Linked DNA regions of Homo sapiens: region 1 is linked to region 2. The links come from fine-mapping of genetic effects on plasma protein levels. A gene starts in region 2. The other region holds a variant in brackets. All regions are shown on one strand. Distances are from middle to middle.

Region 1 (5,360 bases), 120 kb before region 2:
AGGAATCCACTGGTAAATCCGTGGGTCATTTTGTTACATCACTCATGTAAGCTACTCACTCACCCATTTTCCAGGCAGCATCACAGAGGGCAGGGCATATTACAGCTGACTCCTGCATCAGAGGCAGCTTGGAGCTGGGTGCTTTGTGGTGCTGGAGACGACTGCCTGTCTGCTCCTAGGGGAGCAGTGGGGCATGGGAGCCCTCATTCCTCACCGGGCCTTGGCCTTGTCATGGCAGGTCCTCCTGTCCTGATATAGCCGAGCTGGGCAGAGCCTCCCTCCCCTCCCTTCCCTCCTCTGGTCACACCCAGGCTCCTCCTCCCTCTGCCCCTTCCTCTCCTCCCCCTGCTACTGCCTGGAGTGCTCCCATCCCCCCATTAACCTTCTGCTCCCACCACTGCTTCTCCCGGCACCCTGCTGCTGTCTGGGCTGACTCCGCTTTCAAAGAGAAAAAGAGAGAACCCAGCCATGTCCTGGCAGGGGGCGCATCACAAAAACCAGGAGACAGGGAAAGCTGAACAAAGAGGGCCAGGCACGGTGGCTCATGCCTGTAATCCCAGCACTTTGAAAGGCCAAGGCAGGAGATCACTTGAGGTCAGGAGTTCGAGACCAGTCTGACCAACATGGTGAAACCCTTTCTCTACTAAAACAAAATACAAAAATTAGCCAGGCGTAGTGGCGTGTACCTGTAGCTGAGGCAGGAGAATCGCTTGAACCCAGGAAGCAGAGGCTGCAGTGAGCTGAGATGGTGCCACTGCACTCCAGCCTGGGTGACAGAGCAAGACTCCATCAAAAACAAAAACAAAAACAAAAACAAAAAACTGCCCAGAGAACACCAAAGAGAAACAGGCTAAGCTCACACACTAATGACTTCAAAGGGCATGGAGTGAGGACTAGGTGAAGAGGCAGAGAGACAGCATAGAAAAGGAAACTTCCAGAAGGAGCTACCTCAGCAGTCAGGCGTGATGAGTTCTGGAGACCTTAAGGCTTAGCAGTGAGTGTTCATCACACAAATAGACATATTTTTCTATACTATTCCCTTTTGGCCGTGGGATTCATTAGTTTACAAGCATGAACCCCAGCATGTGGATTTCAACCCATTTCACAATTTGTCAGAGTTAGGATCAGAGATCCGGCTGTCGGGGGTGTCAGGGACAAGGAAGACAGGCAGCCACAGCAGATGGGAAGTGGGAGGTACCCGACCTGCTACCCCTCACCTCGGGCACAGCCCATCTTGTGGCTGAGAGCTGGGGTGTCACGTCTCAACCTAGCTCGTGGGTGCCAGGGAAGTGGGGTCAGGGATTATGAGAATCCCCAGGCTACAGCCCTTGGCTCCAGGATGTGGCCCTGGAGGTGACTGAGAAGGGGACTCATGGGCCTGTAGGCTGGGTGGCCTGGGATCGGGGATCAGAAGCAGACACTGAAGTACAGAGAAAAGAGAAGTATAGAGGAATTGCGAGGTGTTCCTGCAGGGCAGAAGAGAGAAGCCTGGGACCCCACGACGGGTAGTCTCAGACGCACCCTTGGAAGCGAAGTGGACATCAGGAGCTCCCTGCCCCGGCCCTGGTACCAACAGCTGTACCCAGACACATGGGCCCTGGCCGGGGTAAGAGAGTGACGGCAGAGCTGGGGAGGAGCCGCCGGGGGACAAAAGGCAGAGAGGCTGAAACCAGAGGACCGAGACCAGGGGTAGAAGTTAGAGGGCTGTCAGGGAGGGAGAGGCCAGTGTGAAGGGGACACTCAAGCTGGGGGCGTGAGGCAGGTGACAGAAGGAGTCAAGACAGGAAGGGCACTGCTCTGGGAAGACGTAAATCCCACCCTCTACCCTCCAGCTGCAGATACAGATTGGGGCTCAGCCGCTGCAACCTGCTCAGTGCTTGGTGGAGAGTGGCAGAGACCCAGCTCCCTCACTCTTTCCCAACCTCGGTTTTCCCTGCACCTGGAGCTCTGGAAGAAACCTCTCCTCACCGCCCCCTCCCCCAGTCAGGCCGTGCCTCGGTTCTCCCTGCACCCAGAGCCCCAAGCGGTGCCTTCTTATCCCCCCTCCCCAGGCCTTACAGCCACTTTTCCCTCCCCTTTCCTGGAACATCACATCAGGAGCTTTTCTCCAACCCCCTTCCGCCTCTCCCCCTTACCTGTGGCCCACGGGGAGGCCTTGAGCATCCAGAGGAGGCCGAGGAGCCCCAACAGCTGCATGGGCCCAGCGGGCAGGGGGCTGGGGCAGAACAGGCTTCAGGACCAAGACAGCGGCAGGGACGTGGCCCTGGGGCGTGCACGTAATGAAAGTGCTGGTTATCGGTTTTGCTGAGCGTCAGGGCTGAGCACAGCCTCACCTTTGCACCGCCCCACCTCTCCCCTCTTCCTCCCTTCTCCCTGCACCCGGACAGACAGACGTCAGCGCTGTGGGAAGCGGGACACGGGGGAAAAAGATAGGACAAGTCCAGGAAGTGTCAGGCAGGAAGAGCTGCTATTGGCTCAGCCCCACAGCCTGCCTGGCCCACATGGAACTGCCTGGAAGCTGCCCTTCCTCCCCGACACCCGTGGAGGGTACCCTTGACCGAGGGCTTGGACTCTGGAGTCTGGTCCTACTCCTGCAGCCTCTCCTGAGTTTCAATTCCTCCTGCTGGGGAGACAGTGGCACCTCGCTCTCCTTCAAGCCCCTTCTGTCCCTCAGTCTGCCCCTGCTCCATCCTGTCCCCCGCAGGACCCCATAGGCCAGAAAAAACCGTGGGAGTAATTAACACAGAATTCCATCTGAAGTCATTTTATTATCTGAAGAGTTGGGGCTAGGTCCCAGAAAAGGAAACATGGATGACCAAAGGAAACACTCAAAAATACTAGTCTGGGCCCGGCGCGGTGGCTCACGCCTGTATTCCCAGCACTTTGCAAGGCTGAGGGGTGTGGATCACTTGAGGTCACGAGTTCGAGACCAGCCTGGGCAAAATGGCAAAACCCCATCTCTACTAATAGGCTGAGGCAGAAAAATCGCTTGAA[A/C]CCAGAAGGTGGAGGGTGCAGTGAGCCAAGAGCACACCACTACACTCCAGCCTGAGCAACAGAGCGAGACTCCATCTCAAAAAAAAAAAAAAAAAAAAAAAACTGGTTTGGACCCAGCACATTGTTTGACCTATCCAGTTTGGGCAAAGGTGTGAAGAATAAACGTTCTTACCCAGCTGGTGGATGTGTAGGTGGGTTGGGTTGTTTTAAAAGAGTAATTTGAGGATCACTTGAGGTCAGGGGTTCGAGACTAGACTGGCCAACATAGTGAAACCCCATCTCTACTAAAAATACAAAAATTAGCCTGGCGTGGGGTGGGCACCTGTAATCCCACCTACTTGGGAGGCTGAGGCAGGAGAATTGCTTGAACCCCAGAGGCAGAGGTTGCAATGAGCTGAGATCGTGCCTCTGCACTCCAGCCTGGGCAACAGAGCGACACTTCATTTCAAAAACAAGATAAAGTAAAACAAATGTTCTTATCCAGCTGGTGGGTGTGTAGGTGGGTTGGGTTGCTTTAAAGGGGTAATTTGGTGGCATCTATTAAAATTTTAAATGAGTGCCTTAGGACCCAGCAATTTCACCCTCCATCTCTGTGTCCAAGAAACCCTTCAAGGCAGCATTCATGAGGATGTTTATTGACTCTCGATTATGGCAATTTTGATGGAAATTGGAAACAGCCCAAACGATTGTTTCAACCCAGAAAGAAGATGGAATAGTCACCCTACAGAACACTGTGCTCAGGCCAGATTCAGTGGCTTACGCCTGTAATTCCAGCACTTTGGGAGGCCGGGGCAGGAGGATCTCTTGAGCCCAAATGTTCCAGGCCAGCCTGGGCAACATGCCAAGACCCCATCTCTACCAAAAAAAAAAAAAAAACACAAAAAAAATTAGCCAGGCATAGTGGTGTGCCCCTGTGGTCTCAGCTACTTGGTAGGCCAAGATGGGAGGATCACCTGAGCCCAGGAGGTCAAGGCTCCAAAGAGTCATGATCGAGCCACTGCACTCCAGCCTAGGTGACAAAGCAAAAACCTGTCTCAAAAAAAAAAAATTATGAATATAAAATTAGGTCAGGGCCAGGCACAGTGGCTCACATCTGTCATCCCAGCACTTTGGGAGGCCGAGGTGGGCGGATCACTTGATGTCAGGAGTTTGAGACAAGCCTGACCAACATGGCGAAACCCCGTCTCTACTAAAAATACAAAGATTAGCCGGGCATGATAGTGCACTCCTGTAATCCCAGCTACTCAGGAGGCTGAGGCAGGAGAATTGCTTGAACCCAGGGGGTGAGGGTTGTAGTAAGCCAAGATCCCGCCACTGCACTCTGGCCTAGGTGACAGAGTGAGACTCCGTCTCAAAAAAAAATTATAAAATAAAATTAGGTCAGACCAGGCACAGTAGCTCACACCTGTAATCCCAACACTTTGGGAGATCAAGGCGGGATAATCACTTGAGGCTAGGAGCTCAAGACCACCCTGGGCAATATAGCGAGACCCATCTCTACAAAAAAAAAAAAAAGATAAAAAGAAAAATAGATCTAAATAGGTCTGACCATCCCTAAGGGAAGAAGCTTTGCGGAGAGAAACTGCAGCTCTTCCTCTTCCCAGCAGGCCCAAGGGACAGGATTGCAAAGGCAGCCAGCGAACTCTCTGAGGCCAGGCCCGCTGGGAGATCTTCGTGAGGGGCTGTGCCTCTCATGTCTCCTGGGGGACCTTGTCCTTATCGAGAGTCACTGAAGGGACCCTAAATAAGAGGCGCTGTGCATACCCACCAAGTGACACTGCCTGCGCATCGGTTGTGCAAATGGCTGCACCAAAATCCAGGGGACACATTGTATAGCCCTGGCCTCAGTGTGTGTGGTCAAGTTGAGGAAGTGAGCAAAGAAATGAAAAGCTAAAGAGTCCAAATGAGGTGGAGCTCAGAGCCCGACAATGACACCACTGGGGGTAACTCAGGGGAGGGGCCAACAGGGAGCAGGGCTACTCTTGGGGTCTTCCACTTCAATTTCTTAATACATTTGATCAAGTTGCCCAGCATGAAGATACTCGTTTGCAAAAAGTTTTGTTGTTGTTTTTCAGAGCAGTCTCTGTGGAAACTGCTGAGCCACATGGTCAAGCACCACAGCCAGCCAAGACGCTGCAAACCAAGCTGGAGGTTTCGGGGGTTTCCAGTCTTTTTTTTTTTTTTTTTTAAGTATCAAACACCATAAAATTCCCATCACTGTTCTGGAGACACAGACGTAAATGGAAAATGGATTCCTGTTGTAAGTAAAGATCACCAGGCTCCTGGGGAGATGGATCCCAGATCTACCCCCATCCACCACCCCTTCTGTCCATCACCTCTCTAATACCCACACCCCCTTCTGCTCC
Region 2 (5,315 bases):
TAGACCAAGGGTGGTTCCTGAGAATTGAAGTGAAAATCTCAGATGCCATCTCCACGTAAAGGGGAAATCATGGGATTTTTTTTCTACCAGGTTGTAATTCACCAGATGACATAAAACTATATTAATTTTTACCAGATTCTCTTTGAGGCCAGGAACCATGTTTTACAAATCTTGAAAACTAGCAATGTGATCACTCGGCACGTAGTAGATGCTCAGTAAAGATTTCATTTTTTCATTCTTTGACTGGCATACACTAGATGGTAGAAAATAGATTACTGCCTGGTGTGGGGTGTGGGCTGATGACCTGACATGGAATAGAATGTTTTCTCTCTTTCTTTCTTTCTTTTTTTGTAGACAGGGTCTCGCTATGTTGTTCAGGCTGCCCTCAAACTCCTGGACTGAAACGATCCTCTCATCTCAGCCTCCAAAAGTGCTGGCATTACAGGTATGAGTCACTGTGCCCCACTAAGATGAGTGTTTTCTATTGTTTAATTAATTTATGTTTTGAGACAGAGTTTCACTCTGTTGCCCAGGCTGGAGTGCAGTGGCACGATTTCAGCTCACTGCAACCTCTGCCTCCCAGGGTTCAAGCAATTCTCCTGTCTCAGCCTCCCGAGTAGCTGGGACTGCAGGCCTGCACCACCACACCTGGCTAAGTTTTGTATTTTCAGTAGAGAAGGGGTTTCACTATGTTGGCCAGGCTGGTCTCGAACTCCTGACCTCAGGTGATCCGCCTGCCTCGGCCTCCCAAAGTGCTGGGATTACAGGTGTGAGCCACTGCGCCCAGCCTATTTATTTATTTACTTATTTATTTACTTTATATATTTTTTGGAGACAGAGTGTGGCTCTGTTGCCCAGGCTGGAGTGCAGTGGTGCAATCTCTGCTCACTGCAACTTCTGCCTCCCGGGTTCAAGCGATTCTCGTGCCTCAGCCTCCCTAGTAGCTGGGACTACAGGTGTGTGCCATGATGCCCAGCTGATTTTTGTATTTTTAGTAGAGAGGGGTTTCACCATGTTGGCTAGGCTGGTCTCGAACTCTTGGGCTCAAGTGATCCACCCGCCTCGGCCTCCCAAAATGCTGAGATTACAGACCTGAGCTACTGTCCCCAGCCAGAAGACATAACTTTTAGAGGCTACAGGATCTGGGTACAGAGTGAGAGTGGCAAAAGGCAGGGCAGGGGTTTGGGAGAGGGTTGCAGAGAACCCCGAGGGAGAAGCTGAATAAGAGAAGGGGAGACTGGGCCTGCATCGGGGAGGGAGGAGGGAATTCCCAGCTCCAGCCTGGTCTGCCTGGCTCCAGTGAAGCCGGCTGTTTCCTGCCCTCGGTGACCGGCCCACCCCCCCCAACCCGGGCGCAGGACCCAGGCAGAACAGCAAGGAAGGGCAGGGGTGTGGGGAACACCTCTTGCAGCAGGAAGATAAGTAAGCCGGGACAAGAGGTTATCACAGGCCCGGCTGTCCTTTCTGGGACGTAAGGGCGCTTGGCAGCCCCCCAAGCATCCTGGACTCCAACGTCTCTCTTGCTGGGCTCCAACGTCTCTCTTGCTGGGCTCCTCAAGATTCTGTCCTCCGGCTGGGCGCGGTGGCTAACGTCTGTAATCCCAGCACTTTGGGAGGCCAAGGTGGGTGGATCACTTTAGGTCAGGAGTTCGAGACCAGCCTGGCCAACATGGCGAAACCCTGTCTCTACTAAAAATACGAAAACTAGCCGGGGTTGGTGCCCTGTGCCTGTAATCCCAGCTACTCGGGAGGCTGAGGCAGGAGAATCGCTTGAACCTGGGAGGCGGAGGTTGCAGTGAGCCCAGATCACGCCACTGCACTCCAGCCTGGGAAATAGAGGGAGACTCTGTCTCAAAAAAAAAAAAAAAATCTGTCCCCGCTAATTACTGTGGGAGTCTAAGTCCTTTCCTTCTGCCCCTTGGAGGGGCTGACTCCTGGAGCAGCACCCCCTCCAATCCATCTATCCAGTAACCCATACTGTTAAGTTCCCTGAAGTAGAAGGGGGTTGGTGGGAGGAGCACGGCTGTGCTGGACCCTCCCCGCTAACTGATGGGAGGGTGAGGGGAGTTGGCAGTGAGAGGAAGGGCCCCTCCCAGCCATCCCGAGGGCCCCCAGGAGCCAGACAGGAAACAGCTCAGGAAAGACAGCAGCCGCAGCCGCAGCCCCAGCCTCAGGGGTCATGGCTGCGGGCGGCGGGGAAGCCCCCCCAAAACACGAGAGTGAGAGTGAGAAGGGCGATTTGGAGATCTAGCCGGACCCCTCACCCTCTCGGACACACCCACCTTTTTTTTTTTTTTTTTTTTTTTTGAGATTTCGTCTCACTCTGTAGCCCAGGCTGGAGTGCAGTGGCGCGATCTCAGCTCCCAGCTCACTGCAACCTCCGCCTCCTAGGTCCCGGTTCAAGCAATTCTCCTGCCTCAGCCTCCCGAGTAGCTAGGATTACAGGCGCGCGCCACCATGCCCAGCTAATTTTTGTATTTTTAGTAGAGACGGGGTTTCATCATGTTGGCCAGGCTGGTCTTGAACTCCTGACCTCAAATGATCCGCCTGCCTCTGCCTCCCAAAATGCTGGGACTACAGGCGTGAGCCACCGCGCCCGCCACACCCACCTTTTCTTTACCGTTGTTTCCTCGATTTTTCTCTACTCCCTAGCGCAGCTTAGTGCGCGCCTCCTCTGGACATTTTTCAGGGCTTGGTTGCGCGCACAGTAGGTCCCCAACACTGAATGTTTATGGGGTGACTGTGTGAACGTTCGCTGCAAGGCTATCCAAACTGGGATTGCTCCTTGAGGCCCCCTGGGCGGCCGTCAATTCTCCAAAGCTTCTACTCCCTTTTCCTTCCTTTTCCCCCAAAACGCAGTCCCTGCGCCCACTAGAGGGTGGTGGGCGCATCCAAGAGCGGCATCTAGAGTCCGCAGCAAGGTCAGAGCGGGCTTTGTGTGCGCGGTGAACATTTACGTGCACGCCTGGGCGGCCCTCCGTGTTGCTGCTGGGTGTGTGTTTTCTCTGCTCCCTGGTGCCAGCCGGGTTCGGGCCTGTCCCGGGGGTCCCTGGGCCCCAGCCCCGACATGCTCGGTCCTGGACAGCGCGCACCGCCACGGCGCACATCTGGGCGGTCCCGGGGTTCCTCACCCGCCGCCCCTCCCCCTTCTCCAAACTTTCTCTCAACTTCCCGACCTGCTCCACTCGGTGCCCCTCTCCGCTTCCCTCATGAATTATTCAGTAGCGTGAGCTCCAATCAGCGCGCCCGGGGCTCACTCGCGGAGCCCCCGCGTTGGGAGAGCTGCCCCCGCCCCCCGCGCGCCCCTCCCTCCCGGGCCCGGCGCCGCCCGGCCCAGTTCCAGCGCAGCTCAGCCCCTGCCCGGCCCGGCCCGCCCGGCTCCGCGCCGCAGTCTCCCTCCCTCCCGCTCCGTCCCCGCTCGGGCTCCCACCATCCCCGCCCGCGAGGAGAGCACTCGGCCCGGCGGCGCGAGCAGAGCCACTCCAGGGAGGGGGGGAGACCGCGAGCGGCCGGCTCAGCCCCCGCCACCCGGGGCGGGACCCCGAGGCCCCGGAGGGACCCCAACTCCAGCCACGTCTTGCTGCGCGCCCGCCCGGCGCGGCCACTGCCAGCACGCTCCGGGCCCGCCGCCCGCGCGCGCGGCACAGACGCGGGGCCACACTTGGCGCCGCCGCCCGGTGCCCCGCACGCTCGCATGGGCCCGCGCTGAGGGCCCCGACGAGGAGTCCCGCGCGGAGTATCGGCGTCCACCCGCCCAGGGAGAGTCAGACCTGGGGGGGCGAGGGCCCCCCAAACTCAGTTCGGATCCTACCCGAGTGAGGCGGCGCCATGGAGCTCCGGGTGCTGCTCTGCTGGGCTTCGTTGGCCGCAGCTTTGGAAGGTGAGTTTCCTTGCGGGGGGGGGCGCACCCCGTCACTCCTGGGACCTCCCCCCCAACATCTGGGCCTCGGAGTGGAGGGGCCGGCCTCTGACTACCCCTACCCGGGCACTGCAGTCCCAAACACTTCGGACCGATAGTGCTGGAACGGGAGGGGGGCGGGGAAGAGGCGCCCGACGGGTAGTGGAGTTTTCTTTTGTTTGGGAAAGAGATGGAGTCTGGCTACGACCCGGGACATTCCCCTGCCCGGGCTCCCCGAACTCTCACTGCTGATTACATACGCCCCTGGCTGCCTTTCCTTTCCTCCCTACCCCACTATTCAAAACTATCTGCAAAGTTTCTGTCCCAGTCCCACCTCCCGCCGTACATGAGGGAAGGTTTCTGGAGAAGCAACAGCAGACAAGGCACAACTTTTCGTGCTAGGCCCTAAAACGACCCCCAGCGCCAATTCCTTAGCGATCACACCTTGATCCTCCAGTTCCACACTCCTGCAACAGGATGGCCTCCTTTGCATTCACACAGCAAACCCCCAAACCGCTCTCCCGCCCACTGCTCCTGCCCCTGGTATAGGGTGGCTCCTTGGTTTCTACAGGCTGCACCCCATCCCTTTAAATGCGGTCTAGACCCCGGCCCCAGGTGAGTCCCGGGCTTCCCTTGAGACCTAGGAGCGGGTAGAAACTGACCTACACAGCCCCCAGGTAGAAACTGACCTACACAGCCCCCACATCGCCCTAACTAACCCAGTCTATCTCCCACCTCCTGGTCTCTCCAAGCATTTCTTTGGCCATGGATCGCTGTCCCTCCTGGTCCCCTAAAGGGGGAGCCAAGAGCCCTAGAAACTCTCCTGTGTCCCTAATGTCCTTTCAGTGAGCTGCCAACACCCCCCTTTCTCTGTCTGGTATGAAAGTGGTTATGGGGCGGTAGGCTATGAGGGACTCCCAAAGGGAAGGATTCAGCGGCGTTAGAAAAACCCTCTCCCCCTGGCTGGGCAGGACTGCCCTGGGCTGGGGATCAAAGGCTAGGTGTGGGGTTGGGAGTGAGGGGAGGCTTGCCCAGCTCAGAGAACGGAGAAGGGGGAACAAAAACCATGAACGAGGGGAAGAGGAAGGCCAAAGGGGTGGAAAAACCACGAGGACGAGGTGTGGTGAGAAGGAAAGACGCAAAGAGGAAATGGTGATTGTGACACCTATTACCTGAGTGTTTCCAAGCACCAGGCCTGTGCTGAGCGCCTTACAAATATTAATTTCACCCATCCAGCAACGCTAAGGGTGGTGCTATTATTGCCCCCATTTTTCAGATGAGGAGGCTGGGGCTTAGTTAAGGTTAAGTAGTTTATCCAAGGCCCTGTGCCGCGAGGAACAGCGAGAAGTGGAGGCCGAAAGCGAAGGAGAGATAGTGACTGTCAGAAAGAGAAACGGAGGTGGACAGAGAGTGGAGG

Direction of the effects. Alleles are on the strand shown, and positions count from the first base shown. The strength of an association depends on the size of the effect and on how common the allele is.
With allele C in place of A in region 1, the plasma level of the protein whose gene starts at base 3,336 in region 2 is lower (strong association).

What was found. PIP is the posterior inclusion probability: the model's chance that the variant is causal. The UK Biobank Pharma Proteomics Project read protein levels with antibody pairs (Olink). The fine-mapping took linkage between variants from a reference panel, not from the people measured, so its PIPs are less certain.
Region 1: its variant is fine-mapped to the plasma level of the EPHB4 protein (UK Biobank, PIP above 0.99).

What each region holds. Positions count from the first base shown.
Region 1 is chr7:100,946,461-100,951,820 of GRCh38, reverse strand. It overlaps MUC3A (mucin 3A, cell surface associated), which reads right to left and starts at 2,287. Exons shown (of 12, transcript NM_005960.2): 1 at 2,136-2,287. The coding sequence starts at 2,196. LOC105375431 (a long non-coding RNA gene) reads left to right here. Exons shown (of 3, transcript XR_007060457.1): 2 at 5,070-5,254. RefSeq lists enhancers at 195-740, 791-1,769, 1,770-2,748. The variant A/C (reference allele first, on the strand shown) is at 2,995.
Region 2 is chr7:100,825,544-100,830,858 of GRCh38, reverse strand. EPHB4 (EPH receptor B4) reads left to right here and starts at 3,336. Exons shown (of 17, transcript NM_004444.5): 1 at 3,336-3,880. The coding sequence starts at 3,829. It also overlaps a transcript of SLC12A9 not described here. RefSeq lists enhancers at 945-1,740, 2,537-3,332.